Homo sapiens: one gene and its partners. The protein of the gene in region 5 purifies or fractionates together with the protein of the main gene of each other region. This does not show direct contact. Each region holds a gene or a part of one and is shown on either strand. Other genes may lie near its edges. The genes, in order: SAFB, DDX46, DCAF13, MAP9, PEA15, HABP4 and ESF1.

What was found.
Region 1: the proteins of PEA15 (region 5) and SAFB purify together in Homo sapiens (affinity purification with mass spectrometry; one large-scale study listed by BioGRID and IntAct). This does not show direct contact.
Region 2: the proteins of PEA15 (region 5) and DDX46 purify together in Homo sapiens (affinity purification with mass spectrometry; one large-scale study listed by BioGRID and IntAct). This does not show direct contact.
Region 3: the proteins of PEA15 (region 5) and DCAF13 purify together in Homo sapiens (affinity purification with mass spectrometry; one large-scale study listed by BioGRID and IntAct). This does not show direct contact.
Region 4: the proteins of PEA15 (region 5) and MAP9 purify together in Homo sapiens (affinity purification with mass spectrometry; one large-scale study listed by BioGRID and IntAct). This does not show direct contact.
Region 6: the proteins of PEA15 (region 5) and HABP4 purify together in Homo sapiens (affinity purification with mass spectrometry; one large-scale study listed by BioGRID and IntAct). This does not show direct contact.
Region 7: the proteins of PEA15 (region 5) and ESF1 purify together in Homo sapiens (affinity purification with mass spectrometry; one large-scale study listed by BioGRID and IntAct). This does not show direct contact.

What each region holds. Positions count from the first base shown.
Region 1 is NC_000019.10:5,628,952-5,633,585, forward strand, and holds part of SAFB (scaffold attachment factor B1), read left to right. Parts: intron 1-4,634. UniProt on the Homo sapiens protein: Binds to scaffold/matrix attachment region (S/MAR) DNA and forms a molecular assembly point to allow the formation of a 'transcriptosomal' complex (consisting of SR proteins and RNA polymerase II) coupling transcription and RNA processing.
Region 2 is NC_000005.10:134,813,497-134,818,130, reverse strand, and holds part of DDX46 (probable ATP-dependent RNA helicase DDX46), read right to left. Parts: intron 1,702-4,634; coding exon 1,525-1,701; intron 636-1,524; coding exon 417-635; intron 1-416. UniProt on the Homo sapiens protein: Component of the 17S U2 SnRNP complex of the spliceosome, a large ribonucleoprotein complex that removes introns from transcribed pre-mRNAs.
Region 3 is NC_000008.11:103,421,586-103,426,219, forward strand, and holds part of DCAF13 (DDB1- and CUL4-associated factor 13), read left to right. Parts: intron 1-4,470; coding exon 4,471-4,560; intron 4,561-4,634. UniProt on the Homo sapiens protein: Part of the small subunit (SSU) processome, first precursor of the small eukaryotic ribosomal subunit.
Region 4 is NC_000004.12:155,370,071-155,374,704, reverse strand, and holds part of MAP9 (microtubule-associated protein 9), read left to right. Parts: intron 1-1,248; coding exon 1,249-1,569; intron 1,570-4,634. UniProt on the Homo sapiens protein: Involved in organization of the bipolar mitotic spindle. Required for bipolar spindle assembly, mitosis progression and cytokinesis. May act by stabilizing interphase microtubules.
Region 5 is NC_000001.11:160,211,884-160,216,517, forward strand, and holds the end of PEA15 (astrocytic phosphoprotein PEA-15), read left to right. Parts: intron 1-1,226; coding exon 1,227-1,382; intron 1,383-1,538; coding exon 1,539-1,603; 3' UTR 1,604-3,489; downstream 3,490-4,634. UniProt on the Homo sapiens protein: Blocks Ras-mediated inhibition of integrin activation and modulates the ERK MAP kinase cascade. Inhibits RPS6KA3 activities by retaining it in the cytoplasm. Inhibits both TNFRSF6- and TNFRSF1A-mediated CASP8 activity and apoptosis.
Region 6 is NC_000009.12:96,459,440-96,464,073, forward strand, and holds part of HABP4 (intracellular hyaluronan-binding protein 4), read left to right. Parts: intron 1-4,634. UniProt on the Homo sapiens protein: Ribosome-binding protein that promotes ribosome hibernation, a process during which ribosomes are stabilized in an inactive state and preserved from proteasomal degradation.
Region 7 is NC_000020.11:13,713,128-13,716,809, reverse strand, and holds the end of ESF1 (ESF1 homolog), read left to right. Parts: intron 1-1,642; coding exon 1,643-1,936; 3' UTR 1,937-2,485; downstream 2,486-3,682. UniProt on the Homo sapiens protein: May constitute a novel regulatory system for basal transcription. Negatively regulates ABT1.

The DNA of each region.
Region 1 (4,634 bases), on a different chromosome or scaffold from region 5:
AGGTGGGTTCTCACTCTGTCACTCAGATGGAGGGTAGTCGCGCAGTCATAGTTCGCTGCAGCCTTGAACTCCTGGCCTCAAGCAGTGCTTTCACCTCAGCCCCACAAAACGTTTAGATTTCAGTTGTGAGCCACTGCGCCCGGCAGGTTTTAAAATACGTGCATGGGAGTAAAAAGCAGAAGTTGTTCACAGTCGGGACAGCCCACTACTAAAAGTTAGGCATACTTCTCCAGACTGTGTGTGTATGTACAATGTTTAAAAGTAAACTTAGGCCTGGGTTACAGAGCAAGACCCTGTGTCTAGAAAAACAAAAAGTTAAATAAAAGTCAATGAGCTGGGCATGGTGGCACACACCTGTAGTCCCAGCTACTAGGGAGGCCAAGGTAGGAGGATTGCTTAAGCCCAAGAGGTCAAGGCTGCGGTGAGCCATGAGTGTGCTTCTACACTCCAGCTTGGGCACAGAGTGAGAGGGGGAAAAAAGTAAATATATAGGTATGTGCACACACCTGTATGCATATTTTTTTCATTAAAAAAACCCGTGATCTTGCTATACAAAATCTCACTGTTTTTTAACAGGCTAATAATCTTCTGTATGAATAAATACACAATTTAGCCCATCAGTCTTTTTATTACTAGACGTTTGGAGATTTTTATTTCCAATTATCACTCGGTACTTCCAACATTCAGTGTTTGCACGAACCAGAGATAAATACCTTTGTGTGGTCAAAGTAATATAATTTTTGATAACTTAGTGAAAGGAGAATTCTAGACTCCAAGGATATGGCCCTTTATTTTCACATAGCTAGTTTACAAATAGCTGTCCCGGCCAAGTTCAGTGGCTCACGCCTGTAATCCTAGCACTTTGGGAGGCTGAGGTGGGCGGATCAAAAGATCAGCCTGGCCAACATGGCAAAACCCCACGTCTACTAAAAATACAGAAATTTGCCAGGTGTGGTGGTGGGCGCCTGTAATCCAAGCTACTCAGGTGGCTAAGGCAAGAAGATAGCTTGAACCTGGGAGACTGAGGTTGCATTGAGCCAAGATAGTGCCACTGCACTCCAGCCTTGGCGACAGAGTGAGGCTGTCTCAAAAACAAAAACAAAAACAAAAAGCTGTCCCAGGTTGTACCCTACCAACAATGGGTGACGGTGCCTATTTCACTAAACTCAACATCAAACTTACCTTGTTTGCCTGTTACCTTGTTGCCTGTTATATAGAAGAAAAGTATTTCATTGTATTTATCTGCATTTTTCTGCAGGTGAGATTTTCGTTTGCATTTCTTCACAGATTATACTCTTCTGATAATTGGACATTTGTGTCGTCTGAATGGCCTTTTCATGCCCTTTGCCGATTTCTGTGCTGGGTTGTTTGTCTTATTGAGTTATAAAGACTCATATAAAATGTTTCTATTGTTTTAATCTGTCATTCAATTTAATCTGATTCGACTTGTGGTATTTTGATCACTAGGCTTCTAGATTTTATGTTACGCTTTAAAAGGACTTCTTTGCTTTTAAATTATTAAAAATATGACTGTAAGGCCAGGTGCGGTGGCACACGTCCGTAATCCCACGATGCAGGTGGATCACCTGAGGTCAGGAGTTCAACACCAGCCTGGCCAACATGGTGAAACCCTGTCTCTACTAAAAATACAAAAATTATCTGGGTGTGGTGGCAAGCGCCTGTAATCCTAGCTACTTGAGAGGCTGAGGCAGGAAAATCGCTTGAACCCGGGAAGCAGAGGTTGCAGTGAGCCGAGATCACGCCACTGCACTCCAGCCTGGGCGACGAGTGAAGCTTCGTCTCAAAAAAAAAAAAAACTATATGTATAACTCTGTTATATATAGAAAGAATAATATTTATGGTTTTATTTTTACATTTTACATTTGGAGGTTTAATTAATTTAGAATGTATTTTGCATGTGGTGTGAGGTAGGTAGGGATGAAAACATGAAACATTTAGGCTGGGCGTGGTGGCTCATGCCTGTAATCCCAGCACTTTGGGAGGCTGAGGCGGGCAGATCACCTGAGGTCAGGAGTTCGAGACCAGCCTGGCCAACATGGTGAAACCCCGTCTACTAAAAATACAAAAATTAGCTGGGCATGGTGGCGGATGCCTGTAATCCCAGCTACTCGGGAGACTGAGGCAGGAGAATCACTTGAGCCTGGGAGGCGGAGGTTGCAGTGAGCTGAGATCATGCTGCTGCACTCCAGCCTGGGCAACAGTGCAAGACTGTGTCTCAAAAAAAAAGAAAAGAAACATTTGTCATCAGAAAGATCACTTCTGCCCCTCCCAGTGCGTCTCCCCTCCCAGCCCCTGCAAAAATAAAAGTCGCTGTTGTGATTACTTCACCAGATATTAGTTTTACCCATTCTAGAACTTCATGTAAAATGGAGCCATGCAATACTAGCTCTTTTGTGTCTCATTTGTTGTTTTGTTTTGCTTCTTGTAATCAGTTTTATTCTAGAAATTTACAGTACATTTTGATATCTGATAGGGCAGGTCGGTAAGTTTTCTTGAATTATTTTCAACTACTTTATCAGTGGGTTTTATCAAGATTTTAACTGAAAATAGAGGGACTGCTGTAATGTGTGAATTCAAAATGCTTTAAAATTCCAGAAAGCATATCTCATGTAATCTCAGTTCTCCTCCTATTGCTTGGACTTGGAGAAAATGACATCCCTTTTAAACAGCACTTGGCCAAAACAGAATTGTCACTTTAACATTTTTTTTAAAAACTGCTTATACAGCAAAAGTCACATTCCACATGACGTGACTCTCACCATCTTAGCAGACTCTCAAAATAATTATCAGGGGCTGTGCGAGATGGCTCTCGTCTGTAAGCCCAACAGTTTGGGACACCGACGCGGAAGGATGACTTGAGCCCAGGAGTTGGAGAGCAGCCTGGGTGACATAGTGAGACCCCATCTCTCCAAAAAATTAGAAAAATTAGTCAGATGTGATGGCGTGCATCTGTAGTCCCAGCTACTCAGGAGACTGAGGTGGGAGGATCACGTGAGTCCAGGAATTTGAGGTTGCAGTGAACCATGATTGGGCTGTGATTGCTCTCCAACCTGGTAACAGGGCAAGACTCTGTCTCGAAAAAATAAAATAATTACCAGGAAACTAAATTTATTTGTAGTGTCATCACAAAGTACAAATTAATAGGATGTTTTATGGTGTTTGAGAATGTTTTGTAACTGGAGATGCAAAGTTGGCCTGTTTGCTTGGTTAAGTATTACCCAATCCTTTGCTGCTGGCTTGTTTTGTTCAGTTTTTGTTCATTTTGGCAATTTCATACTTAAGTTGCAAGAATAATGCAAGGAATTCCCATATACCCTTTACCCAGAGTCCCCAAATATTGCCATCTGACTACATTTGCCTTGTCCTTTTCTCTCCTTGTATGTATGTTTTTACTAGACCGCATGGTAAGTTGCAAGGCGCATATGCCCCTTTGCCCTACGTACTGCAGTAAAGTAAGGATATTACCTAACTGTAGATGTCCAGATCAGGAAATTAACATTGATACAATACTGCCACCTCGTCTTAGTCCTCATTTAGATTCAGTAGTTTGTTCCAATAATATTCTCTATAACTCAGACAAAAAATGTCCAGAGTCATGCATTGCATCAGGTTGTCATGTTTCCTTAGTTTTCTTTAATCTTGAACACTTACACTTATTTTGTAGTTTATTTTTCTATTTGAATTGTTTTGGGTTCTCCCCGCCCCATAATAAGGATCAAGTTATACGCTTGTCAGAAATACACCAGACATGTTGTATTCCTGTTTTTTGTTTTGTTTTGGTTTGAAACCGGGTCTTGCCCTGTTACCCAGGCCAGAGTGCAATGGTGCAATTGTAGGTCACTGCAACCCTGAATTGCTGTGCTCAAGCGATCCTCCCACCTTGGCCTCCCAAAGAGTTGGGATTACAGACATGAGCCACCACGCCCAGCCTATATTGTCATCAGAGTATACTATCCAGAGGCACATGCTGTCAGTTTGAGCCATTATTGGCCATGTTAGCTGACTTCAAATGCTATTGGCCAGGTTTCTCCACTGGAAAGTTACTGTCTTCCTTTTCACAGTTACATTTGTGGGGAAGATACTCTGAGACTTTGTAAATATCCTGCTCATCGTCCATTAGTTTTAGCAACCACCAGTTCCTGTCTATTCATTTATTCTGGTAGTTGCCAAATGGTGATTTTTTAATTTTGTTATTGTTTGTTTATTACTTGGTTTACTGACATAAGGAATAGCTTGCCCTTTGCCCTCATTTATCTGTGTGAACTTAGATTATTTTATTCCATAGGTTGAAAGCCTTTATGCTTATTTACTACAATGTGCAAAACGTTCCATTGGGAACCCTGTCAGACAGGCTCCCCTGTCATTTCCACATGTTCATGCCATTCTTGGGATACTTTTTTACCTTCTGGAATGGCAGGGTACGTGAGTCTCATCTTATGCTTTTCCTGCCCTTTCCCCGGAATCAGCCATTTCTTCCAGGTGCCCTGGGCCCTTTTGAGGAGAGCTATTAGAAACCAGGGTCTGCAGCCAGGCGCGGTGGCTCACGCCTGTAATCCCAGCACTTTGGGAGGCCGAGGCAGGCGGATCATGAGGTCGGGAGATCGAGACCATCC
Region 2 (4,634 bases), on a different chromosome or scaffold from region 5:
TAAAAATACAAAAATAAGCTGGGCATGGTGGCGCATGCCTGTAATCCCAGCTACTCGCGAGGCTGAGGGAGGAGAATCGCTTGAACCCGGGAGGCGGAGGTTGAGGTGAGTCGAGATCGCACCATTGTACCCCAGCCTAGGCGATAAGAGCAAAAGTCTGTCTCAAAAAAAAAAAAAAACAACAAACAAGCAAAGAAAACAAAGATCATTATTAATACATACCTGCATCATAAGTTCATTTAGATCCTAATGTACCTTGAACATACTCATAAAAATCAAATTTCTATTGTTATATCCTCCATTTAGGTAAAGAGTGAAGGAGCTATTAAAATGTTCATGGGTTTTAAAGATGAGATTTTTCCTCCAAAGAAGAGTTGCTACTTCACAATAAAAAAAGGTTTAAACCTGTTACTTGCCTGTGGGAAGTCATTGATCTCTAATTCTTCTTCATATCTCTTAAAAGATTCATTCTGTCCACCATCCTGTCTCTCTTCTTCTTGTTTCTCTAACGGCACATAATTGAGCTTGGCATTGATCTTTTCAGCAAGTTGTTCTGCAATGGTTTTTGCAGAAACAGTGGGAGCCAGAATGGTGCCACCCCTAAGAATTGCATTGGTGGCCTGCTGCATCACATCCTGTAGTTAAAGAAGACTTAGTTAAATCTCAAATGAGGGCAGAGACAAGAGTAGGGACCACACCACAAATTATTCTCTGAAAAGCTACTAACTTTGTATGCAAGTTTAATAAATAAACCTTTCTAATGCATAGTCTCATTGATATGTGTGATTTAGCAATATATATTTATAATGTAGTTTAATGTACCTCCTAGTGGATAAGAAAACTGGAGAACATTCAACTCTATTAAATATTCTACTAGATCATAGAGATGTAGTTGATAATTAGCTAACTCTTGATGTCAGACACAGTAAATATTTCGAAAATCATTTGCATACTCTAATTCCTAGGAGTCTCCTCCGAATTTGAATGTTTGTACTACTACCATCACTGAGCTCCTTCATCTCTATGACCCAACCCAACATTACAAACGTTATAGTTAATGACTGCCTCAAAAGCTTCAAAATAACAAGTAAGCTTCCAAGAAAAAGATAACGTGAAATATTTAAAAATCACATTTCTCCACTGTTTAAGACCATATTGATTTGAGTCATGTAACTGGGTGTTTGTATATCCAGGGAGTTGTGTGCCCAATAAAAGCAGATAAAGAAAGAAAAAGAGAATTATTAATACATCTTTAAGATTTTGTTAAGACTCATCAGAATACTACCCTATAAAACTACCAGTGGCTAACAGTTAGAAATTCCAGAATAGGCCCAAAGTCCTCAGTCAATAGCACTGAGAAATCATCCAAATGCAATTATCAAAAAATTCTGTATTGAGAATGTTAAATTCTCACAAACTCAATGTCTAGGACAACTTGTTTACTTGTGTTCAACATAATTCCTGAAAAGTAAAATCAAAGAACTTCTTAAAAGTATTGACTGAGACTTGGAACAAATTACTTAATACCTGAGACTCGATGCCCAAATTCTTCTGGGCATTGATTCTAAGAGCCAATCTCTTAGCAATTTCTAATTTCTCAGCATTTCCTGCAGTTGGAGCAGGAACACTTGATGTTCCAGGAGCAGCCATATCCTTTACTCTCTTCTTTGAATTAAACATGCTTTCAATTTGCTCATCAATCTAGATCAAAAGGAAAAAAAGGACTAGTAAAAAACTGAATTAGAAATACCAAATTAAGTTATTCTACAGAAATAAATAAGGAATGTTTCCACCAAAAGGCTGGAATCAGATAGTTATATTTACACAAATCCTACTACACAGATCCATGGGAAAATATACCACCTATTTGTTAAAAGTCACATTTCATTTAAAAAATCAGTTGTCTATGGTAGGGAGAAAAATAGAAAACAGAGAAACAACATTGCATGAACCACGTCATCAGACTCCTGAGAGGACCAGAAACTTCATCCCTGTTCAATAAATGAGGAAACATGTGCTTTCAAGACAGAATAGCCAATAGGATGCAGCTGACTTACCCCAGGGCTCAGGCCTTGAGACCAAATTATACTGCAATGAAACAGGCTGGAAGAAGGACTATAACTCAAGGTCAGTGGCCTACTAAAAATATAGTCAATAATTCTCAGGGGGAGTGATATAACATGTTCCTAAGGTAAAGCTCTCAAAACTCTTCCCAACCCATAAAATCCAATTGGATTTGCCTTAAAAACTGGGTAACTGAACCAGAAAAGGCTTATTCCCTTATTCCTTTGAATCAAGAAAGGAAACAAATGCAGGTTGTTTCCCCATCAAGGCAAGCGCAATGATGAATGCTTTGCTTTGACAGGAGTCACATGAGCCCTACTGCTAGGTGCATTTCTTTTTTTTTTTTTTTTTTTTTTTTTTGAGACAGAGTCTCGCTCTGTCTCCCAGGCTGGAGTGCAATGGCGCCATCTCAGCTCACTGCAAGATCCGCCTCCCAGGTTCACGCCATTCTTCTGCCTCAGCCTCCTGAGTAGCTGGGACTACAGGTGCCCGCCACCACACCTGGCTAATTTTTTGTATTTTTAGTTGAGATGGGGTTTCACCGTGTTAGGCAGGATGGTCTCATCTCCTGACCTCGTGATCCGCCCACCTTGGCCTCCCAAAGCACTGGGATTACAGGCATGAGCCACCACCGCCAGCCTGCTATGTGCATTTCTTTTAAAAAATGCCCTTTGCCCAACAGTGACTACTGATATCACTGATTACAGAAATACAAGCCCCCTTCAGAAATTTAGATCAGATTAATAAAGCTGTATCTTCTAGATCTCAAATGCACAGAAAAGCTTATTTAGGGCTTAAAAATTAATTGGTTAATTTACAAAGCTCTTTTACTACAATAAAAACAGTCCGTTTAGCTTTTGTATTTTTTTGAGACAGGGTCGCCTTTAACTCCCAGGCTCAAGGGTTCCTCATATCTCGGCCTCCCAAGTAGCTAGGACCACAGCGTGCACTAGCACGTCCAGCTAATTTTTAAAAACCTTTTTATAGAGATGGGGTCTCACTGTGTTGTCTAGGAGGGTCTTGAACTCCTGGGCTCAAGCTATCCTCCCACCATGGCCTTCCAAAGTGTTGGGATTACAGGCCATGAGCCACCACACCCAGCCTTAGATTCTTCTTAAAACATTTATTACCTATTAAAGGGTTTTAGTTATGGCCACGCACAGTGGCTCCTGCCTATAATCCCAGCATTTTGAGAGTTCAAGGCAGGAGGATTACTTGAGCCCAGGAGTTCAAGACCAGCCTGGGCAACATGGCGAAACCTTGTCTCTACAAAAAATATAAAAGTTACCCAGGCATGGTGGCACATGCCTGTAGTCCCAGATATTCAGAAGGCTGAGGTGGGGAATCACCTGAGCCCAGGAGGTCGAGGCTACAGTGAGCCAAGATCACGCCACTTTACTCCAGCCTGGTTGATGGAGTGAGATCCTGTCTCATAAAAACAAAACAAAACAAAACCCCAAGAAAACACCAACAGGGGGTCAGTTATCAACTAGTTTTAAAACTCAACATTTACCTGAGTAAAACCGTTTTAAATTAAATAGCATTCATGGTATTACAATCTGAACAAATTCATAAAATCAGGAAAGGGGGAAGTATACAATGCTAGCTGGTAGAGCTAACCTTACTTTTGATTTTATTCGTGTTAAGTACTGTTTACATTTTTCATAAAATTATATATTACTTTAACACCCGAAGAAACAATCACCGTATTTTATCACAAGATTTTAAAAAACAGTTAAAAATACTGCAGTTTTCCCTTTACACATGGAATACATTCCAAGAACCCCAGTGAATGCCTAAAAACAGAGATAGTACCGCACCGACATACACTGTTTTTTCCTATACATACATACCTATGATAAAGTTTAATTTATAAATTAGGTACAGTTAAGAGATTAACAACAATAAAATAGGACAATTATAGCAATATACTGTAATAAAAGTTATATGAATGTGGTCTCAAAATACTGTAATAGTTTCAGACTGTGGTTAACCTATGGCAACTAAAACCACAGAAAAGAGGAAACTACCATAATGTCAAAAAGTGACAGATGTTTTTAAAACATGGCTACAAATTATTTAATAGTCTTTTTTCTTGAGTGTGGGCTGGACTTAATGACTTCCTTCTAATAGAAGAAAGTGGGCTGGGCATGGTGGCTCATGTTTGTAATACCATCACTTTGGGAGGCTGAGGCAGGAGGATCACTTGAGCCCAGGAATTTCAGACCAACCTAGGCAACACAGTGAGACCTCGACTCTAAAAAAAAAAACATTTTAAAATATATATTAACAGGGCATGGTGGTGCACCCATAGTACCAGCTACTCAAGAGGCTGAGGTGGGAAGATCGCTGAGGCAGCAGTGAGTTGAGTTCGCACCACTACACTCCAGTTTGGGCAACAGAGTCAGACTCTGTTTCCAAAACAAAACAAAACAAGACAAAAAAAACCCCATAAAGAATAAAGTGGAAGTGACAGTGTGTAATTTCAGAGACAGTCATAAAAAGCACTAAAGCTTTCTCTTTGCTCTCTTTGATCACTCACTGTGGGGAAAGCCAGCTGCCATGTGGGT
Region 3 (4,634 bases), on a different chromosome or scaffold from region 5:
ACTCCTCTGTCCCCTCAGTCCCCAACCCCTGGTAACTACTATTTTACTTTTTGCCTCTGTGATTTTGACTATTCTGGGTACCTCATATAAATAGAAGCATATTTTAAAGAATTATACCATTTTGTGTATGTGGAATAAGGCTTTTGGGTCTGGCTTATTTTACTTAACATAATTGTCTTCAAGGTTTATCCATGTTGTAGTACATGTCAGAATTTCCTTTCTTTTTATGGCTAAATAACATTCCATTGTATGTGTCACATTTTGTTTATCCGTTCATTCATCAATGAGCATTTGATTTGTTTCCACCTTTTGGCTATTGTGAATAGTGTTGCCGTGACCATTGGTGTACAAATACCAATTCAAGTTCATTGAAAGTCTTTTTAAACAAGGGGAACGACAAAATCTGAGCTGTGCTTTGAGTTAAGTAATTTGACAGCAGTTAGTGATCAGTTTGAAGGCCATTTTAATAGTTTGGCAGGCAATAATAAGAGGCTACCTTATTATGGAGACTGAAAACTAGAAATCAGTGGTTGATACTTTGGAGGATTGACAGGTTTGACAACTGAGAGGTGCCTGGGAAGAGGTTGGTTCCTGTTGCTGAGGAGTACCAGCAAGTTTTGAAGGGTGGCAATGGGAAGGATATGATGTGACAAACTGGACTGCTAATGGGCTGTTCGAGTGAAGATGTCTGTCATACCTTTACAGATGCAGGTCTGGAGCTCAGGAGGGAGGTCAGAGCTGAACTTGACATCATCAATATAGAACTAATCATTGAAGCCATAGTATGGCATCATTGGGAGGAAATGAGGAGGAAAATATAGAAATACAAAGATGTCAAGGAAGTAGCCTTGGGGAATGCCCACCTCTGGGAAGTGGGAAAACTCTAGGAGTAGCCAGAGCTCAAAGAATCTGTGAATGAGCATAGTGTCCTAGGAGGAAGGAATAGTCAGTTTTGTGAACTACTACAAAGAATAATGAAAAATGAAGACTGAGGAAAACATTTTAGAAATGTAGAGATGTAAAAAATAGAAAATTAAAGATTGCATAATTCTAGTCTTTCACTTCTAACACTATTAGTTTGGTGTATGTCTTTTCAAGTGTTTTGACCTACCTATACAACAGTTTTTGTATACACATGCGCTAATCAGTCAAATAGATCTTCCTTATTCTTTATTTACTGGTGACTTTTTAAAAAACAGGTTGAGCTGAGTTATAAAATGTAGGTTGCAATCCAGGTTGGCTGGGTGCAGAAGCTAGATTGCAAGAGAATAATAAAGGGAAAAGATGACTTCTGGGAAACCTGATAGCTACAATTTGAAAGATTGTCATGTGAAAAAGAAAATAGACTAATTTGTTGCTCCATAGAGAGGCACTGGAAATAGGTGTTAGTGTTAAAAGATTCGGTTTTGGTGTAAAAAAAAAAAACTTATTTGCTGTCAAAAAGCAGAATAGGCTACCTTGCAAAGCATTCAGTTACTTTTCACTAGAGGGGTGCAGATAAGCTGCCTGACCCTGCAAGCCCAGTGTTGTGCAAGGAATTGATTGGCAAGTGGGAATGGATGGCACCTAAGGCTTCTTACACTTGGTTATTCTCTTGGATATATTGATTAATAGCTCAGCCAGAGGACTTAGTGTATTTTTTTTTAATGCTTAAAATGAATAAAGGCTCATTTGCAGCATTATTCACAATACCCAGGATATGGAATCAACCTAAAGTGTCCAGCAATGGATGAATGAATTTTAAAAAAAAAAGTACACACACACACGCACACAGGAATACTATTCAGCCTTCAGAAAGAAGGAAATCCTGTCACTTGCAGCATACATGAATGAACCTGGAGGACATGATGCTAAGTTAAATAAGACAGATACCACATGATCTCAGTTGTGTGGAATCTAAAAAAGCCAAACTCTTAGAAATGGAGTAAAATGGTCATTACTAGGGGCTTTGAGGGAGGGAGATTGGGGAGATGTTGGTCAAAAGAGACAAAATTTCAAATAGATGGGATGGATGTTGTACAACACTGTGATTATAGTTAATAACAACATGCTCTCTTGACAATTGCTATGAAAGTGAATTAAATGTTCTCACCACAAAATAATAAGTATGTGAGGTAACAGATATGTTAATTAGCTTGGTTTATCCATTCCACAGTGTCTACGTGTATCAAAACACAATGTTGTACATCATAAATATATATCTTTTATTTGTAAATTAAATAAAAAACATTTTAAGAAATGAATAAAGACTGAAAATGTTTCATATTCACCACTTATTTCCCCCCACTTTATTTTTTTAAAGAGACAGAGTCTTGCTACGTTGCCCAGGCCGATGTTGAACTCCTGGGCTCAAGCCTGTCTCAGCCTCCCAAAAAGTGTTGGGATTACAGGCATGAGTCACCATGCCCACCTTATTGTTTCTCGGTTTTTCAAAAAGATTTTTTTTTTTTTGAGATGAAGTCTCCCTCTGTCGCCCAGGTTGGAGTGCAGTGGCATGATCTCTGCTCACTGCAAGCTCTGCCTCCCGGGTTCACGCCATTCTCTTGCCTCAGTCTCCCCAGTAGCTGGGACTACAGGTGCCCACCACCACTCCCGGCTAATTTTTTTATTTATTTTTATTTTTAGTAGAGACAGGGTTTCACCGTGTTAGCCATGATGGTCTCGATCTCCTGACCTAGTGATCCACCCGCCTCAGCCTCTGAAAGTGCTGGGATTACAGGCGCGAGCCGCCATGCCCAACCAAAAAGATATTTTTGAGTAATGTGTGCTTTGTCAGAGATAAGACACATGTGAAGACTACTTGCTGGTACAACTTTAAGAATGTTTTTAAAAATTTTAGTACACAGTGTTGCAAAACATAAACTTTTATTACCTAAAACTTCACTAAGATATACCAGTTTGTAATACCAACAATTCCTTCTTCAGCATAACCAGCCTGGAGATGAGATGTTCTAGCCAGGCACATATTCTTGTTCGGCTACTCATTTCTATAAAATGAGAAAACCCTTCCCAGAATTGGTGGTCCGCTGAGGTTTGTACTCAGTAGACGGCAGAACAGCTTGGTCATTTACAAGCAAATTCAGTCTTGAGCTTGCAGACACTATCAGAAACTTGATGGAGGGATAGCGTCTTCAGGAACGGGGTGCTCAGGGACACAGTTTATCCTGTATTCTGTAAGTGCTAAAATGTCTCTTTGGGTCAAGCCAGATCAGTCAAGACCTGGTACCTAGATTACATCTTAGTCTCCCAGTAGAATCAGGTTTCTAGAATTGAGTTTTAGTATAGTGCCAGTGGCTCAGATTCATAGTTGTTAATAAGATGTAGCCCTATTAAATACTTTTTGTCTATAACAAGGATGTAGTTAAGGATTCTGTTCATCGACATCCTCAACAAAAGACATCGCTGTGTAATCTTAGTACCAAAACCTTTCCTGATCACTTATCTGTTTTCATCTCATGGGCACTGTAAACTGTTTTGCAAGAAGCGTTTTCCTTTTTGAATTTGCTGTAAGAAAAGAGCTACATTCATACTCTTCCCTTAGATAAAGATATCTTTGTTAATGATTTTATCAAAAAGTGGATATAGATTGCATCTAATATATAAATGTAAGATTTTAAGTTAAAACTAGCAGTTTTGTATGTATGCAGTTATACAGTACCACATTTATGATTTTGTTTTCAACCTCAAACTACATTATATGTTCTGTTTTGTAGTCTGTTTCACCTGATAGCTTAAACATGTCTGCCAAATACCCATGTCTAAATTACCATAGTTTGTTGCTTTGCCTTGATTTGGGCTAACGTGCCAACAGTTTTGCTCACTGTTGCTTTTTTACTATTTGTGCAGCTGTCAGCACAGTGAAAAGACAAACTATGTCTTTACTAACATTATGAAAATAGTTTTGACTGTGTGGACCCTGAAAAGTTCTCAGGGTCCTCCAGAGGCCCAAAGTTCACAGTTTGAAAACCACTGACTTAGTAGTTTCTGCAGTTCATGCAGAAAAGGACTTTATCTATTTCAATATTATAACAATGCCTTCTCTCCAGTATTTTCATGTTTTTCATTTTATTTTTTACATTTAAAATTACCTGGAATTTTATTTTCACATAAGGCATCAAATTGGCTCAATTTTTTTGAATGACTAACCAGATATTATAATACCATTTTTTATAATCCATTTTTTCTCCAAGTTGAAATGCCATGTTTATCACAATATGCATGACCTAACTTTGCCCCTGTTCTTGTTTTTCTTTTGCTCTACTCATTATATTTTTAGTTTTATGTACTTTATGTATTTGTCACAAATCTTTACTAAAACAAGGTGGGATATAAATGGATCAATAAGTGTAATACTGGAATGATATGGTATGTTACCTGTTTTAAACAAGATACTTATTTGATATGTGTTGGCAAGTTTTAATTTATAACTGTTGTTCCTTACCATCATCATAATAAAACAAATATTTCTAGGTTGGTGATGACAAAACTGTGAAGCAGTGGAAAATGGATGGGCCAGGCTATGGAGACGAGGAAGAGCCATTACATACAATATTAGGAAAGGTACAAAAGTAAATTGACTAATAGCTTGCCTATTAACATTCTTTTATTTAAAATTATTTTATAGTTATAATTTC
Region 4 (4,634 bases), on a different chromosome or scaffold from region 5:
GAAAATATAAATTAATTGATGGCAGGTTTGCAGTAAAAGGATGGCTGCCAGTGGTAAACCACATTGAAGAAGACAGGTTCATCTTTAAGATCAACCCTAGGAGGTGCTACAGCTAGTTAGTAACTAGTCCCACAGAACTAAACTTCGGTGCACATTAGAAGTGCTTTTATAAAGCTTGCTATAAATCAGATTTTTTTTGGCTGTGATAAGGGGTAAATTTAAAAACCACAGACTCTTCGTGTTTCATATATCAGTACTATTATAATTTGGTTTCTCTTAGCTATGTAAACATATTAACATTTTAGTTTCAGGTATAAGCATACAGAATTCTAAACTTGGTGTTTTTGTTTGTTTGTTTTTGTTTTTGAGATGGAGTCTCGCTCAGTTGCTCAAGCTGGAGTGCAGTGGTGCAATCTCGGCTCACTGCAACCTCCACCTCCCAGGTTCAAGTGATTCTCCTCCTTCAGCCTCCTGAGTAGCTGGGACTACAGGTGCCCGCCACCATGCCCGGCTAATTTTTGTATTTTTAGTAGAGATGGGGTTTCACCACATCGGCCAGGCTGGTCTCGAACTCCTGACCTTGTGATCCGCCCGCCTCAGCCTCCCAAAGTGCTGGGATTATAGGTGTGAGCCACCGCACCCGGCCTGGTGTTTTATTCTTTAAAATTTGGTGAATAATTGTAATTGATTTCTGTAAAACCAGTAATAACCACAGTTAAATCACTGCTGTATAGTTAACTTAGCATTTCTTATGATTCTTAGTAAATCTAATATTCTGGTGTGGATGGAATTGTAGTTCCAAAATTTTTATGGAAAAAATATAATTAGTAATTACTAATTAAATTCTTCCATTTACAAATGTTCTTGATTTTACATGAAGAAGTAATTTGCAAATAAAAGTTTTACAGTCCATAATCTAATTTAAATGCTACATGACTGATTGTTAGGGACCTTTGGATGGCTTTTTCCAGAGCAAACAGTGTTTGGTTGTTTGGTACCCTACAGACAACACAATAAATACATTTTGAATAAATTAATGAAATTGGAATTTTTATTTCATAAATGTTAATGAGACGTGCCTGAGTTAGCTGTGTTTTTAGAGCTGCAAGTCTATTTATAAAATACATTTGTGCCTATTCATTGTTAGAATTTTGTTTGTAGCTTTTAAGGTAAACTTTGATTAAGTTAACGTAACCTTGACAATTTTTAAAAATACTGTTGAAAACATTTTTCTTTTCCATTTTTCAGTTTCTTTAGGTGATTTTTCTGACACTTCAGCAGATGAAAATTCAGTTAATAAAAAAATGAATGACTTTCATATATCAGATGATGAAGAAAAGAATCCTTCAAAACTATTGTTTTTGAAAACCAATAAATCAAACGGTAACATAACCAAAGATGAGCCAGTGTGTGCCATCAAAAATGAAGAGGAAATGGCACCTGATGGGTGTGAAGACATTGTTGTAAAATCTTTCTCTGAATCTCAAAATAAGGATGAGGAATTTGAAAAAGACAAAATAAAAATGAAACCTAAACCCAGAATTCTTTCAATTAAAAGCACATCTTCAGGTAATTTGTTAGGATTACTGTAATTGCATTTCTTGGAAGTTTATTTTAAGATAATCAGTCCCAAAATTTTTATATGGTAGCTAGTATATATTTAAGAAAAAAAGACAGACTTAACTTCCATTTTACAGACCTGTTGTATTTTGTCTAACTTCAATTTTACAGACCTGTTGTATTTTGTCTAACTTCAATTTTACAGACCTGTTGTATTTTGTCTTGCATCTAGGCTGTTGCCTGATAGAAAGCCAAAGCACAAAGCCAAAGCACCTTTAGTCATCCATAGCATCCATAGCTGTGGATCTCCAGACACCTAGACCTGTGAGCTTCAGTTTTGTTTGTAGGTGTGGAACTGGAATGGAATGCTGTCTAATCCCTCTCACACTCCAAAGATTAGAGTTACAGCAATATTGAGACTAATCCTTCTAACAGTCTTTGCCATACCAACATTGTGCCAGAAAATTTTCTTGACATTTGTATATTTGAAGGATGAGTTATGTTATTGCTGCTGTTGTTTGTTGAAGCATCCAGGCACTCCTTAAGAGAATCTCCATTTGATCTCTGTATTGCCTATGAAAATCTACTAAGATTCAGTTTTCCAAAGGAAAGTTCCTGGTGTGATCTGGGATTACAGTTAGTTCTGCCCACAATTTTACTGAATTTTAAGCATAAAGGAACAAAGATAGAATGAAACGGAGACCAAGTCCTGTCACATACCCTGGGCCACCATTCATGAACTTGTATATGCAAGGTTAAGGATTTTTTGTTTTTCATTCTTTGTATTTTATAAAGGAATTATTAGTTGATGTTAACCTTCATAAAAATCTCCTTGCATATCATCAGTAAATACAGTGCTGGTAAATATTTCATACTTTGCATATTAGATACCAGTGGTAACGTCAGACAAAACTTTATTTCAGGCATGTATTGGGGAACTGCTCCTTTCTTCCTGACCCCACAATCTCATTAACTTTGAAATGAGCAAAGGATGTAAGCAGAGCAAAGAACACTAGAATAATATCCAGGACACTGGGGGAAAGGCCTCTGTATATTATATATGACTTCAGCAAATAAGTTAAGCTTCAGTATCCTCATGATGAGGAAGCTAAAAATAACCCTCTTTCTATTCCTGCAAAATTGTGAGAGTTTATTGAAGTGCATCTCATAAACTATAAAAAACTACAAAAATGCAAACAGATGCATAATGAAACAATTAACTTGTTAAAATGTACCTTCTAAGTATAGTGAGTGAAATCAATGCTGGAGAGAAGAGGAACATAATTGAACTTCGTTATTAAGAAAATGCGAGCATATATAGCAACTAAAAATTTGTCTGAGACAGGTGGATGTATATAATTAGAAGTTTATGGTAGATAATCAGGAAAGCAATAATCCACCTATTTCATACCTTAAAAAAAAAAAAAACCTGTGGTGGGTTACAATGAATAAGAAAATACTGTATTTTAACCACAAGGTGGCATCAGGATCCTAAATGCTCTACTTATATATGCAATGTTATATTCAGTACGTGTAATATAAAAATAATTACCTAAATAGGTAATTGTATACATTGATTACCAAAAAAAGCGCTTTTCTTAAAGTATAGGCATTTTTTTTTCTTTTTGGGAACTTGACAGTACTTCTGGAAGTGGAATTTTTGTAGAAAATATATTAAAGTTGTCATTCTCAGGTTCTTCAGGTTGAAAAGTAAAAATTGAGGCTAGTGTTCCTAAGATAATATCTGGCATATATAATAAGTATTTAAATGAATAAATTAATATATGAATGATTTATCTTTGAAAGAGGGAATATGGTTCATGAGTTTATCCTCTAAATTCTTTGACTTTTTTTTTTTCTGTACAGGTTTGGAACTCAATGTTTTTAATGTGGTGAGATATTGCTGAGTAGCAAGTAATGCTTTATGAAACTATTAGAGCTTGAAGGTTTTCTCTGTCCTTGCTTGTCTTTTGTAAAAAGTATAATAACCAGACTTTATAGTCACTACTGAAGTGACAGTTGCTCTATAAAGTGAAAGTATTTTTCACAGGATATGTTTTTATTTTAATACTAACATGACTGAAATCATGAACTTTGGAGTCAGGATGCTTCTCCTTTAATCTGAGATCTGCAGCCTGCTAGAGTTTGTGACTTTGGGCATGAGACCTCTTTGTTCTCATTTTATTCATCTTTAAAAACGGGATAATAGTTGCCTGCCTCTAGGAGTTTGAGGCAATTAAATGAGTTCACATATTTGAAGTGCTTAGAATAGTACTGGCATAAATTTAGCACTCTATAAATGTTCTGATTATTCATTTTATTATTTAGCGTTTGTTTATAAACATGCTCAGCAGGTATAAAGTATCAGTCATGCGGGATGCGTAAGTTCTAGAGATCTGCTGTACATTGTGCCTATAGTTAACAGTACTGTCTTTTGCACTGAATGTATTAAGAAGGTAGATCTCATGTTTGTTCTTACCACAATAATAAAAAAAATTGACTCAACACCTTCTTTCAGGCATTATATAATATTCTGCTTAAACTGAGGCTCAAAAGACATGCAAGCATTTGTCAGGAGGAGAAGCAGGAAGTGGATATTCTAGGCAGGGGGATCAGCTTAGGTAAAGGTATGGTAGCAGGAGGGATTGGAGGGATTGTGGTATGTGTGCATGACAACTGTTAGCCCAGCATTTCAGAAACACAGATGACAAAATGGCTGTAGATAAGGCAGTGAAGGACAAAACCATAAAATCCGTTTTATGTTGTTTAAAGGCAGTTAAGCTTTTATTCTGTAGGATTGGATCATGGGGAGCCATTGAATAATTTTGTAGAAAGGAGTGATGTGATCTGATTTGGATTTTGTAAATATCATGGAAGCAGTGATCTAGGAAAGAGTGGATAAGGACCCGACAGCAGGGATGTAGAAAGTGGAATAAATGAGATATTTGGCAATTAGAATTGATAGGATATATTGATACTCTGGATTTAGGGGATAATAGAGGGAGGAATCTAGAGCCCTTGGATTTGGGGTTGAACATTTGGCTGGAGTTTAGGATGTAGCTAAAATTGTCAGC
Region 5 (4,634 bases):
CCCTCATCGGTAAAAAATGTTATTCAGATACTCCTGTGCTATTATCACATATACAACAGAACATAAAAACAATCTAAAAATAGTAAAATTTTAAGTGGCAAAAATTGGGAAGAATTCTAGACAATAAAAATGGAAGAATACCTGAATGAGGGGAGAACTCGAAGTGTAATCTAACTGGTAAATAGTAATACTAATCTTTGTTAAGCATTTTTTAAAAACTGGTAAAATTTAAAACTACAAGTTCTATCATTTTCTTATCCACTTTGAGAGACTACTGCTTGGGGAGTGGGATCTATGGATTAGAGTAATCCCTCACAGCTGGAGGCTTTAGGGAAGAATTGGTGTTTAAGATGGCCCTGAAAGGTGAGTGGGATTTCTAAGGCAAGATCCAAAGGAGGGCATGCCAGGCAGAGGAACACTGTCACAGAGTATCTAGTGTGTTTGGAAATGCAATCAGTCCTGCTTGGCTTGACTAGGATGTAGGGTGTTTAGAAATGGCTGGGAAGGTAAGGTAAGACTGTGTTGTAGAGAGCCTGGGTATTGGATAGGTGAGGTGAGTGAACTCAGGGCCCTTCAGATATACTATTCTGACTGCTGTGTGGCTGGCAGGGAGAACGTATAAAGGAGGACGTGTTACAGTTAGACTGTATGGCAACAGTCAGAGGGGAGGAGCCAGGGAAGAAGGTCTAAGGGCATCTATAATCTCCTGGAATTGGCCAAGCCATGGACATCGTCCTTCTGGTGGTGTCCATACCTTCTCTCATTTAGAATAACCTTTCTCACCAGGCCCAGAATCTCTCCTGGGTTGCCTAGAGATTCCACCCTGCTGGTCCTACATGTGCTGTCAGCAAATTCTGATACTTACTTGGATGGAAAGTGGAAAAGGATGGGGGTGGGGGTGGGGTATCTGGAAGTCAAGTTGATTTTTCTTTTGTCCCCTCCCCACAACATATGGGAGCTAGTATCTAAGCTAAACCCCTCATTCTAACCACAATCTAGAAACTTCACTGACCAACTATCTGCCCTTCCTGCGAACAGTCCTCTGTATTGTTGTTTGGGTACCTTAGCTTTCTTCTCCTGGATTAGTAGCCCCTCTTCCTCCAGTGTTGTACCCTCCCATAACCAATGTCAGCAACTCAGCTTTGGTTCCAGGTCACTAGTCTGGTGGAGTAGGGGAAGCTGACCTCTACAGCCTAGCTCTGACCCTATCTCCTGCCTTCCTCCAGACAACCTCTCCTACATTGAGCACATCTTTGAGATCTCCCGCCGTCCTGACCTACTCACTATGGTGGTTGACTACAGAACCCGTGTGCTGAAGATCTCTGAGGAGGATGAGCTGGACACCAAGCTAACCCGTATCCCCAGTGCCAAGAAGTACAAAGGTAAGCGGCCACTCCTTTAACTAGCTGCACCTCTGCCTCGTCCCGTTGACTATCCTTGGAGTACTTGAGTTTTGGGAGAGTGGAGGCAGATGCCCAATGGGCCTGCCTGGCATCTCCCACACTGCTGTCCCTGGACACATACCTTTTTGCCCCCAGACATTATCCGGCAGCCCTCTGAGGAAGAGATCATCAAATTGGCTCCCCCACCGAAGAAGGCCTGAGCAAGGGGGAGGAAGAGGAGGAAGGTTGGACCTTCATCAGACCACTCCCTTCCCCCATCCTCCAGGAGAGGGGGCAAGGGCAACCCACCATCTACCCACTTACTAACCTGGTCCTAACCCCCTTACTGTGCGCGTGTGTGTGCGTGTGCGCACGCTCTGGCTGTTTGTCTATATGTCTAGCTCATCTAGTTCCTCTTCTTAAGGGGATGGGGGTCAGGGGCTAGGGGAGGGGGCTGAGTTTCCCCACTTTAGGAGGAGGTGGGGGCTATTTCTATGCAAATAGAAATCAGCACATTCCTCCTACTTCCCTTTCCTCCACTCCCCCCATATCTTTAAAGTGTGGAAGCAGAAAGGACCTGCATTTTCCTACATTGAGGAGCTGACATAGGGGTAAGGTATGGGAGAGGTAGGTGGATCCAGGGAAAAGCAGTGGGGACGGAAGGCAAAGAGACCACTCAACCCCCACCTGGAAGGGGCAAAGAAAAGCCAGAGTTCCATGTTTGTACTCCTGTGCTGGACTGTTTCCTGAGTACCAGCAGGTCCCTTTTTGTCTCTCATGGGCCTAGCATAGGTATGAGCCAGGGATCCTTTCCTGGTCCCTAAGATCAAACCCCATGGAGCAGCCAGCGTTAGATGCCCCCACCCACCTGTACTCTGGAGAGACTGTGCTGGGAACATGTACCACTGAGCCTGAGATGGGGATGAGGGCAGAGAGAGGGGAGCCCCCTCTTCCACTCAGTTGTTCCTACTCAGACTGTTGCACTCTAAACCTAGGGAGGTTGAAGAATGAGACCCTTAGGTTTTAACACGAATCCTGACACCACCATCTATAGGGTCCCAACTTGGTTATTGTAGGCAACCTTCCCTCTCTCCTTGGTGAAGAACATCCCAAGCCAGAAAGAAGTTAACTACAGTGTTTTCCTTTGCACCGATCCCCACCCCAATTCAATCCCGGAAGGGACTTACTTAGGAAACCCTTCTTTACTAGATATCCTGGCCCCCTGGGCTTGTGAACACCTCCTAGCCACATCACTACAGTACAGTGAGTGACCCCAGCCTCCTGCCTACCCCAAGATGCCCCTCCCCACCCTGACCGTGCTAACTGTGTGTACATATATATTCTACATATATGTATATTAAAACTGCACTGCCATGTCTGCCCTTTTTTGTGGTGTCTAGCATTAACTTATTGTCTAGGCCAGAGCGGGGGTGGGAGGGGAATGCCACAGTGAAGGGAGTGGCAGAATCAAATTGCTACATAGTCCAAACAAAAAAGAAGGCTTTTTCAAAAAACATTAAATTCACATGCAGTCTCAGAGACTATTTAGACAAAGTTCAAGTTAGGAGCTTTTAGGATGTGGGAGTAAAACTTTAATGGGAGGGGAGGGCTGGCTGCTGGAAGAAGGAAGAAGCCAGACTGGTTAGACAGTACTCTTAACTCCTAGCCCAGCCTAGCGTGCCCTGCCCCTCTGGCCACTGCTGCAGACACCTGCCTTAACACACACACCTCTAGGACTCCACAGTTTTGCCTTAAAGGACCTTCCCAAGTCTCCCTTTCCCTGTCTGGCTTCTCCCTTAAGAAGAGAGAGATACTTGTAGAATTGGGTGGGGGGAATGAGCATGAACTGTCCTTCCATTTGGGATATGTTACATTAGAGTGAGAGAGAGAATAAGGAGCCTTTCTTATGGAAGAAATGGGAGAAGAGAGACAGGGTTCTTTTCAGCAGAGTCTAGTAGTTTCTCTGTAAGGCAAAATAATCTAAAAAGACTAACCTGCCCACCCACTCCTTATATTGCTGTGAGATTGCCCCTATCTTGTGCTCTTCTGTCTGCAGTGTGCACGGCCTTGTTCTAACCCGGAATAAAGGTGATTGATTGTATTGCAACTAACTGATTTTAAAATTTCTGTGAGTGACCAGGATTTTGCAGGCTTTGAATCACTGGGAAGGGAGGGGGAACAATATTTATGGCCCAGAATAAGGGCTGGGAAAATACCCCAAGTGTATACCCTCACCCCACCCAATCTCCTAAGTATCACTGAGCTAAATGGAGTGTATCCTACTTCCAACAGTCTCCAATTGGAGCCCAAGCACTGGAAATACGGGTCTCCCAAAATGGACTTTCTAACACTGTATCATGTGCAGAATGAGAGGGGAAGGCTAGGTACCTACATTAGTAGGAACAAAAACCATCCATTGTGAATAAATGGACCACATACCACACAGAGCAGCAGTCGGGAGAAGAAAAGCTTTACTGGGAGAAAATACAACAAATTCCAGAGTGCATGGTTTTTAGCCCACCCTATCACCCCACCAGCAATAGGAACACAGACCACTCGATCACCACACATTCCCTACCTCAGGGAGTAAGTACAGCAGCCAACATCTGGTCTCAGAGCTGCTGGGAAAAGGGGCAGGAGGAAGAAGTATCTGGGAATACCATTCTCTCACTCTTTTCCCCTCCTTCCTGGCCTGATTTAGAAGAATCTGACTGTCCCAGGATACAGAATTCTTGGTTGGATCTTGTGGAACTGGGGGCAAAAAAATAGCAGCAAAAGCACTTAAGGGCAAGAATTCAGCTGGGACTTTCAGACTCAGTGACCAGTGATAAGACAAGTGCCCAAGCTCCAGCCACTGTAATCAGTCCTTAGATTAATGACTTATTCCTCAATCCTAAAATATCAAGAGGTGGACAAGGTTTAAGTCAAACCCAGGAAGTCTTTCCCTTCACTCTTCTATAAAGAAGGGAACTGGCATGAAGTTGGATGGCTTAATGATCAAGCAGCTAAAGGTAAGAGAGACAGAGTGAGAGAGTGTGTATGTATGTGTGTGGTGTGTGTGTACATGTCTTCTGTCACAAAGTACCACAATAGTCTGCAGTGGTGGCACCACCCTAAAGTAGTTAAGTTTTAAAGACAGGCCAGCCTCTGGTTAGAAGAGCCATCCTTGGAACCCCCTACAAGACTTAAGGAGAGGTAGGAGATCTGAGGCAGAGCTGAGAGGAATTTCCTGTTTTTCCCAACCCCTACACC
Region 6 (4,634 bases), on a different chromosome or scaffold from region 5:
GCCACCGCACTCCACCTCAACACGGGGAGGGGTTGTGTCTTATGTTTGGCACTTGCTGCTTAAAGTCTTTGTTTAATCATTAAACCTGTTTATGTTAAACAGAAACAAGTAGTGAATCACATTTCAAGGAAAATAAAGTTAAACAAGCTAAGGAAGACTAGAATAGTGAACAGTTATATGTCAAGGGAGCCATTTTTCCAAACTCTTTCTGCTTCTTGACTGCTAATTCCATTCCATTTAGGATTCTGGCTACAAGTTTTAACCAAAAAATGTGGCTTTGTAAAACTATACTATAGAGCCTATTAAAAACAAAACAAAACAAAAGTCCAGCAGAGAGTAACTTAGCCTGGGTGGGCTGAGCAGGTGATGACTCATGCAGAACTGTTCACCTGGAAGTTACACATTCAAGACATTGAGATAGTCTATCTGCAACCATGTTGGAGGGAGAAACTTACAGAAAGCCTTAATTTTGCACCTTTTTTGGTGATTACTTCAAATCTGCTGTGTAGTAAGCACAGTCTCCTTGTTTCTGCAAAGCTTCTTGTAGCAGAGCTGCTTATTTTTGGAAGCATTTGGGTATTTATTTTCCCCTCACTTTAGGGATTCTGTGGAAATGAGGAAATTATAGTTCACTTGCACAAACCCATGTTTCCCCCCTTTTTTAGTAGCAAGACTGTGTAGTCTTTAAAAAGGATAAAATAGATCTTTATATGTGACATGAAAAAATAGCTATTAAGTGAAATAATACATATATGGAAGAGTAAGGTGGGATATGGAATTATGGAGGGGTTTTTTAATTTAAATAAGGTCAGAATTACAGAAAAGTTTTAAGAATTATACGAAGAATTTCCATCTGCCCTTCGAGACCCCCCACATACTAACTGTTTACCACATTTGCTTTATCATTCATCCCCCACCACACCACACAGCCTTTCTTTGTTATTTGAGAATAAGGTGTAGGAATGTCCCCTTACTCCTAAATACTTTAAATGCATTTCCTAAAAACATGATACAATTTTCAAAGTCATTAAAATGAATACAATACTGTTACCTAATTCTCTAAATTACGGAGTCTACAGACTTTACTCAGATTTCACCAATTGTCCCAGTGATGTCTTTTCACAAAAGAGAAAACATTTCTGCTTCAGGATCCACTCCAGGCAAATGCATTGTATTTAGTCATCTTTAATTAGGAACAGCTCCTTAGCCTTCCTTTGTCCTTATGAATTTGACATGTTGTAGAGTATGAGCCAGTTATTTTATAACATGTCCCAGATTTTGAGTTTTTCTGATGTTTCCTCGTGGAATGAGGTTACGCACTTTTGGCAGGAATGCCACAGAAGTAATGTGTTCTCAGCGCATCGCAGTACAGATATGTAGGGGATTTTCACTTTCAGGGAAATCTGAATCTTGATATCAGAAAACATTTTCTTAGTTTCTTAAAAAATACCCTCAATAAATAATACTCTTAACTAATAATAAAAACACTCTTAATAAATAAAACATATAAAGTTTTATTTGTGACAAACTCACAAGCAAAAGGAAGGAAAATAACATTTGAGCCAAGCATCCTGCTTTATAGACTTGTGATTCACTGTCTTACAACAGTCCTAGCAAGTAGACATGATGCCTGTTTCACAAGTGGGAAGCCTGAAGCCCATGAAAGTATGAATGAGGAGTTCAGTGTGGATACCAAGTTTCAGTTTGAAAACATAAAAAGTTCTGGAGAAGAATGGTGATGATAGTTGCACAACAGTGTGAATGTACTTAATGCCACAGAACTGAACACTGAAAAATGATTAAAATGGTAAATGTTATGGTATGTATATTTTACCACAATTTGCTTAAAGCTTGTTAATAATGGGGGGAGGGTAAACATCTGAGGGATTTTTTTTTTCAGAACAGGAATTGATTTTAAATGACCAGTAAACTACAGAAAGGAAGAGCCAAAATTCATCTAGACAGAGGCAGACTAATCTCCTAATAGTCTGTTCTAAGAGTTCAGTTAAGTTTATTTGGAGCCTAAGGAAAAATTCCTACTGCATTAAAAACAGTAGTTTACTCCCAGAATATGTGCACCACATGATATAGCAGATCTCGGGGGCGGAGACATGCCCGTTAATCCCAGCGCCGTTTATGACATTGCTTCCGTGGGAAAACACGTTCTCTGCCTGGGTAGAATAGAAATCCATGGCAGCTGGCTGTGACAAGACTACTACACACATTGCTGAAACTCTGGGTCTGTTTTCTCATTGAAAAATGGAGAGGGCTGAATTTAGATAATCTTTCGAGATTATAAAGATTCTATAATTCTGTCCAATAAACATGTATAGGTATTAAAGAAACTCAAGGTGACACCCTTTTTCACTATCAGATGAGCAAAGATCAAATTTTATCATATTCAAGCTTGGGGAAAGTGCTATAAGAAATGCTCTTGGCGGCACAGTGGCTCATGCCTGTAATCCCAGCACTTTGGGGAGGCTGAGGCAGGCAGATCACCTGAGGTCAGGAGTTCAAGACCAGCCTGGCCAACATAGTGAATCCCCGCCTTATTAAAAATTCAAAAATTAGTGGGGTGCGCCTGTAATCCCAGCTACTCGGGAGGCTGAGGCAGGAGAATCGCTTGAACCCAGGAGGAAGAGGTTGCAGTGAGCCGAGATCATGCCACTGCAATCTATCCTGTGTGACATAGTGAGATTCTGTCTCAAAAAAAAAAAAAAAGAATTTGTAGGTTGGGCACAGTGGCTCTCACCTGAAATCCCAACACTTTGGGAGGCAGAGGCAGGCAGATCACCTGAGCTCAGGAATTCGATTCCAGCCTGGCCAACGTGGTGAAACCACATCTCTACTAAAAATACAAAATTAGCCGGATGTGGTGGCACACGCCTGTGATCCCAGCTAGTCTGGAGGCTGAGGCAGGATAATCGCTTGAACCTGGGAAGTGGAGGTTGCAGTGAGCCAAGATTGTGCCACGTCACTCCAGCCTGTGTGACAGATGAGACTCTGTCTCTAAAAAAAAAAAAAATTGCCAGGCGTGGTGGTGCACAGCTGTGATCTCAACCACTGAGGAGGCTGAGGCATGAGAATCACTTGATCTGGGAGTCAGAGGCTGCAGTGAGCTGAGATTGCACCACTTCACTCCAGCCTGGGAGACAGAACGAGACTCTGTCTCAAAAAAAAAAAAAAGAGAGAGAGTTTACTGTTGGCTGGGCACAGTGGCTTATACCCGTAGTCCTAGCACTTTGGGAGGCCTAGGTAGGCGGATCTCTTGAGCCCAGTAATTTGAGACCAACCTGGGCGACATGGTGAAACCCGCATCTCTACAAAGGGTAGTTAGCCGAGTGTGGTGGCACATGCCTGTAGTCTCAGCTGCTTGGGGGACTGACATGGGAAGATTGTTTGAGCCTGGGAGATCAAGGCTGCAGTGAGCAGTGATTGGGCCATTGCACTCCAGCTTGGGCAACAGAGTGAGATACTGTCTGAAAAAAAAAATTACTGTTACTTTTCTTTTGTTTTAGAACTGTACTTTAGATTTCTTTTTTTGCTCTGTTTCCCAGGCTGGAGTGCAGTGGCAGGATCTCGGCTCACTGCACTCCTGGGCTCAAGTAATCCTCCCACTTCAGCCTCCTGAGTAGCTGAGATTACCAGGCATGCACCACTATGCCTGGCTAATTTTTATATTTTTTAGTAGAGATGGGGTTTTGCCATGTTGCCCAAGCTAGTCTCGAACTCCTGGGCCCAAGCGATCCAACTGCGTTGGCCTCCCAAAGTTCTGGGATTGCAGGAGTGAGCCACCACTCCTAGCCTGCTTTAGTTTTTTTATTTTTATTTTTAAGACAAGGTCTCGCTTTGTTGCCCGGGCTGGAGTGCAGTGGTGCCATCTCGGCTCACTGCAACCTCTGCCTCCTGGGTTCAAGCGATTCTCCTGCTGCAGTCCCCCAAGTAGCTGAGATTACAGGCGTCCGCCACAACGGCCGGCTAATTTTTGTATTTTTAGTAGAGATGGGGTCTCACCATATTGGCCAGGCTGGTCTCAAACTCCTCACCTCAAGTGATCTGCCCGTCTCGGCTTCCCAAAGTGCTGGGATTACAGGCGTGAGCCACCGAGCCCAGCCTGCTTTAGATATTTGCTATAGTTTAGGATCAGGTTTTGCTTTAGATATTTGCTATAGTTTAGAATCAGGTTTTGGTTACAGGAGGTGGGAGACAGAAAAGCCAACTTGGAGAATTTATTTAAGTTGTGTTTCTTATAAGAGACTGGCATGACGTTAATGATCAGTACTTCTGTATTTCTTTATTTTTTGAGTAAGGAAGATTGCGAGTTTTGTATACTTTTACCCACTATTGTATAGCGGTTTCTTAATGTAACACTTTTAGCCATAAAAGTAGATTGTAACATACCTCTACTGCTGGTGTTTGAGCTACTAATGCCACTAGGTTTCTTGATGCCAGGACCTCCATTAAATAAGTAATTTCTTGTGATTTTAAATGTTTTTAAAAGCCTTTCCAAATTAGAAAACATTTATTAAACTATTGTTACAATGGTGAAAAAGAGCTTAGAGCTTAGTGAAGGAGAGACAAGTCCTCAGAAAGAGTGCTGGTGCCCAGCGACGGTGCAGGGAGGAGTGGGTGGG
Region 7 (3,682 bases), on a different chromosome or scaffold from region 5:
AAAAATCCAGGTATAGTGGCGCACACCTGTAGTCCCAGCTACTCAGGAGGCTGAGGTGGGAGGATCGCTTGAGTCCAGGAGGTCAAGCCTGCAGTGAGCCATGATTGTGGCACTGCACTCCAGCCTGGGCAACAGAACAAGACCCTGTCTCAAAAAAAAAAAAAAAAGAAAAAAAAAGAAAATGTCTTCAGAAAGACTGATGGTGGAGCCAAAGGCTACTGTCTTTTAATCCAGCACAGCCAGTTCATCCTAGGGTGGATGAAATCATTGTTTCTTTGGTTGAGCACCAGGTGAAATAGTTGACTTGTATTTTGGTAGCCATATTGTACCAAAAATGTGTAGTTTTTAATGTTAGAATCACATGTAGTGATCCTCAGACCAGCAAAGGTATGCTTGAATAGCAGGTTCATGTCACAGTGGGTCACACTCACTGTGTGCAGTGGCCAGCGCAGTAAGCCATGTTTTTTCAGTTGCTGTGTTTTTTGTTTCCATTACTCCTTCCTCTTTTTGTTGAGTACATATTCCTAATGGCTGCAGAGTCCCCTAAGCATGAGTTTGAGCCGTCTACCAAAAATCTACAAACAGCTGTTAGAAACTGCTTAATGACTTCCAACCATTAATGTGGAAGAACTGACCCTGAGTAAGATGGGGGAAATTTGGGAAATTTTAAATTTGTTCAAACAATGGAGGGTAGCATACAGATGGCTTCTAAGTAGCATATAGAAGGATTTGGGGGCTACTCTGTAGCTTCTGTTGTTTGAGTCAGTTTCACATATGCTCCCATTCCAGTTAGGTTTTTATTGAGTTACTTTCCTTATGAAAAGCAAAGAATGATTTGTAGTCATTCTGCCTTCATATATTAATATATGCATAAAAGTATTTTTTACAGGATTTTTTTCCTTGTTCTGGGTATCAAATCCCTTGGCCTCGTGATAACTAAGTAAAGCTACAATCTATCTCCAGGTGGACTTGTATTTCGTGTGTTTCCCTTTCTGCTGGTTACCCATCTGCCTGGCAGCCCTCAAAGGCTGGCTGCAGTTAAGGGTATATTCTTAAACATGGAACCACAAGTTTTTATAGAAAGAAGATAAATCTGGGGCTTGTGTCTGACCAGACCTTGATCTCAGATGGATTATTTGCCATAGTGGTCTTTAAATCTTTTGATCCATGGATCACCTTCAATAGTTCCTTATTTTGGCACCAAGATTAAAATTTCTTAACATGTACTCAGAGTTCAGGGCCTCCAGCAGATGTTCTGATTGGCTTATTTATGCTGGTAAGAAATTGATTTTGTGCTGTAAGCATGGGAAAGCCCTGCCTCACAAACCACTGCTACAGTCATTTTGTCTAAGTGGTCGTTGTAGTTACCGGCCATAATATGTATATGTATGGCCCACTATAATTCCCTTTGAAATACATTGTCCTTGCATGATAAGAACAGGGTGCCCCACAAGTTGTGGTCCAAAGGTAGGCCATAAAGAGCTATGGAAAAACAGTTTCCTAATGAATCAGTACAAACACTCAGGTTTGTATTTTATATAATCAACTCACCAACTTTCGAAATTTGGCCCCATTTCTGGCCTTTTGCTTTAGTAATTTTGTTTAATTAATTTATTAATTTTTTTTTTTTTTGGATTTGCAGGTAAATGTTAACGATGCACGGTTTCAGGCAATGTACACTTCCCACTTGTTCAATTTGGACCCCTCAGATCCCAATTTCAAGAAAACAAAAGCTATGGAAAAAATCCTTGAGGAGAAGGCCCGGCAAAGAGAACGGAAAGAACAAGAACTTACTCAGGCAATAAAGAAAAAAGAGAGTGAGATTGAAAAGGAATCACAAAGGAAGTCCATTGATCCTGCTTTGTCAATGTTGATTAAATCTATAAAAACCAAAACAGAGCAGTTTCAAGCAAGAAAAAAGCAAAAAGTCAAATAACTGGATGTTACTTATTTTTGAACTGAATACATCTTTTCCTAAAATGTACAAAAATAATAGGAGGGAATATTTATTGGGAACAAAGCTATCTTTCAAGAACATGAATAAAATCTTTTTCTGGACATAGTAAAATTTTTCTCCATAAATAATTGTACTTAATTGTGGATGACTGACAAATTTTTATTGTATATTCCTACAGATCAGTCATAATTAAATTACCTGCATTATAGGGTTTATAAAATTTTTATATTTTACAATGTTCAGTTCTAACTAGTGGAAAGTTACTCTAGCTTTTTAAAAGGCTGTTTACAATTCTGTGTAAAAATAGAGCAGTATCTACTCAAGTTTGTGTAAATGTTAGGGATAATTTGAAAAATATATATATTTAATACATTAATTTCTCTGGAAGCAGGAGGCATGTTTAAATAACTATTAAAATAATTTATTTTTCTAGCCATAAAGGATGGAAGTCAAGAACTTTTTGTTGTTTAGTCATGTTAAGTATAGTTTATGAAATTAACTTGTAAATAAAAGTGTAAAATATTTTCATTATTTTGTATAGCACTGATTTATTCCATTTTATGCATCTCAAAGTACTCTCTGGAAAAATATCTGAAAACCGATTTTAACTTTTTAAGAGGACAACTCCATTTAAAGGCAGTTCTAGAGTTGCATTGCTCGTAAATTGCATTTGAAATATTCATGAGCTCTCCAGTGGTTTTTCTGTTTGGTAGCAACAGAAAAGTCTTCTGTCTGTCCTTCACATTTTTGGAATACTTTAGAAGGATGGATATGCTGCTGTAGAGTTTAAGGATACCTTAATTCTTCTTAAAATTAAAACACATCTTTAAGGCCTTAACACTCTTGGATCTCATCTGGTCTAAATATTATAGACAACTGACAGTCAAATTAGATATGCTGTATAAGTAAATGTAAATAAAACCAGACTTGTAACTTGGAGCAAATTATAAATATGGTAACTTCTGAAAGACAACAGGAATTTGACCAGGTTTGTGGTTAAACTTGACATTTGGGGTATTAAAAATCAAACCTACTGACCAGGCAAGGTGGCTCTCACCTGTAATCCCAGCACTTTGGGAGGCTGAGGCAGGAGAATTGCTTGAGGCCAGGAGTTTTGAGACCAACCTGGGCAATATAGTAAGACCATAGGCTGGGTGTGGTAGCCTACGCCTGTAATCCCCCCACTTTGGGAGACTGAGGCAGGCACATCACTTGAGGTCAGGAGTTCAAGACCAGGCTGGCCAACACAGTGAGACCCCCCATCTCTACCGAAACTACAAAAAATTAGCCGGGCGTGATGGTGCATGCCTGTAGTCCCAGCTACTCAGGAGGCTGAAGCAGGAGAATCACTTGAACTTGGGAGGCAGAGGTTACAGTGAGCCGAGATTGAGCCACTGCACTCCAGCCTGGGCAACAGGAGACCCTGTCTCAAAATATATATATATACACGTCTGTGTGTGTGTGCGCGCACGCGTGCGTATAACAAGCCAAGTGTGGTGATACATACCTGTGGTCCTTGCTACTCAGGAGGCTGAGATGGGAGGATCATATGAGCCCAGGAGTTTGAGTTTACAGTAAGCTGTGATTGTATCACTGCATTCCAGCCTGGGTGACAGAGCAAGACCCTGTCTCTATTTAAAAAAAAAAAAAAAAAGTCACCAATGTAGCATATATTTTAAAGACTAAAATGATGGAAAACTCAGAGTGATATCAAAATAATAAGGG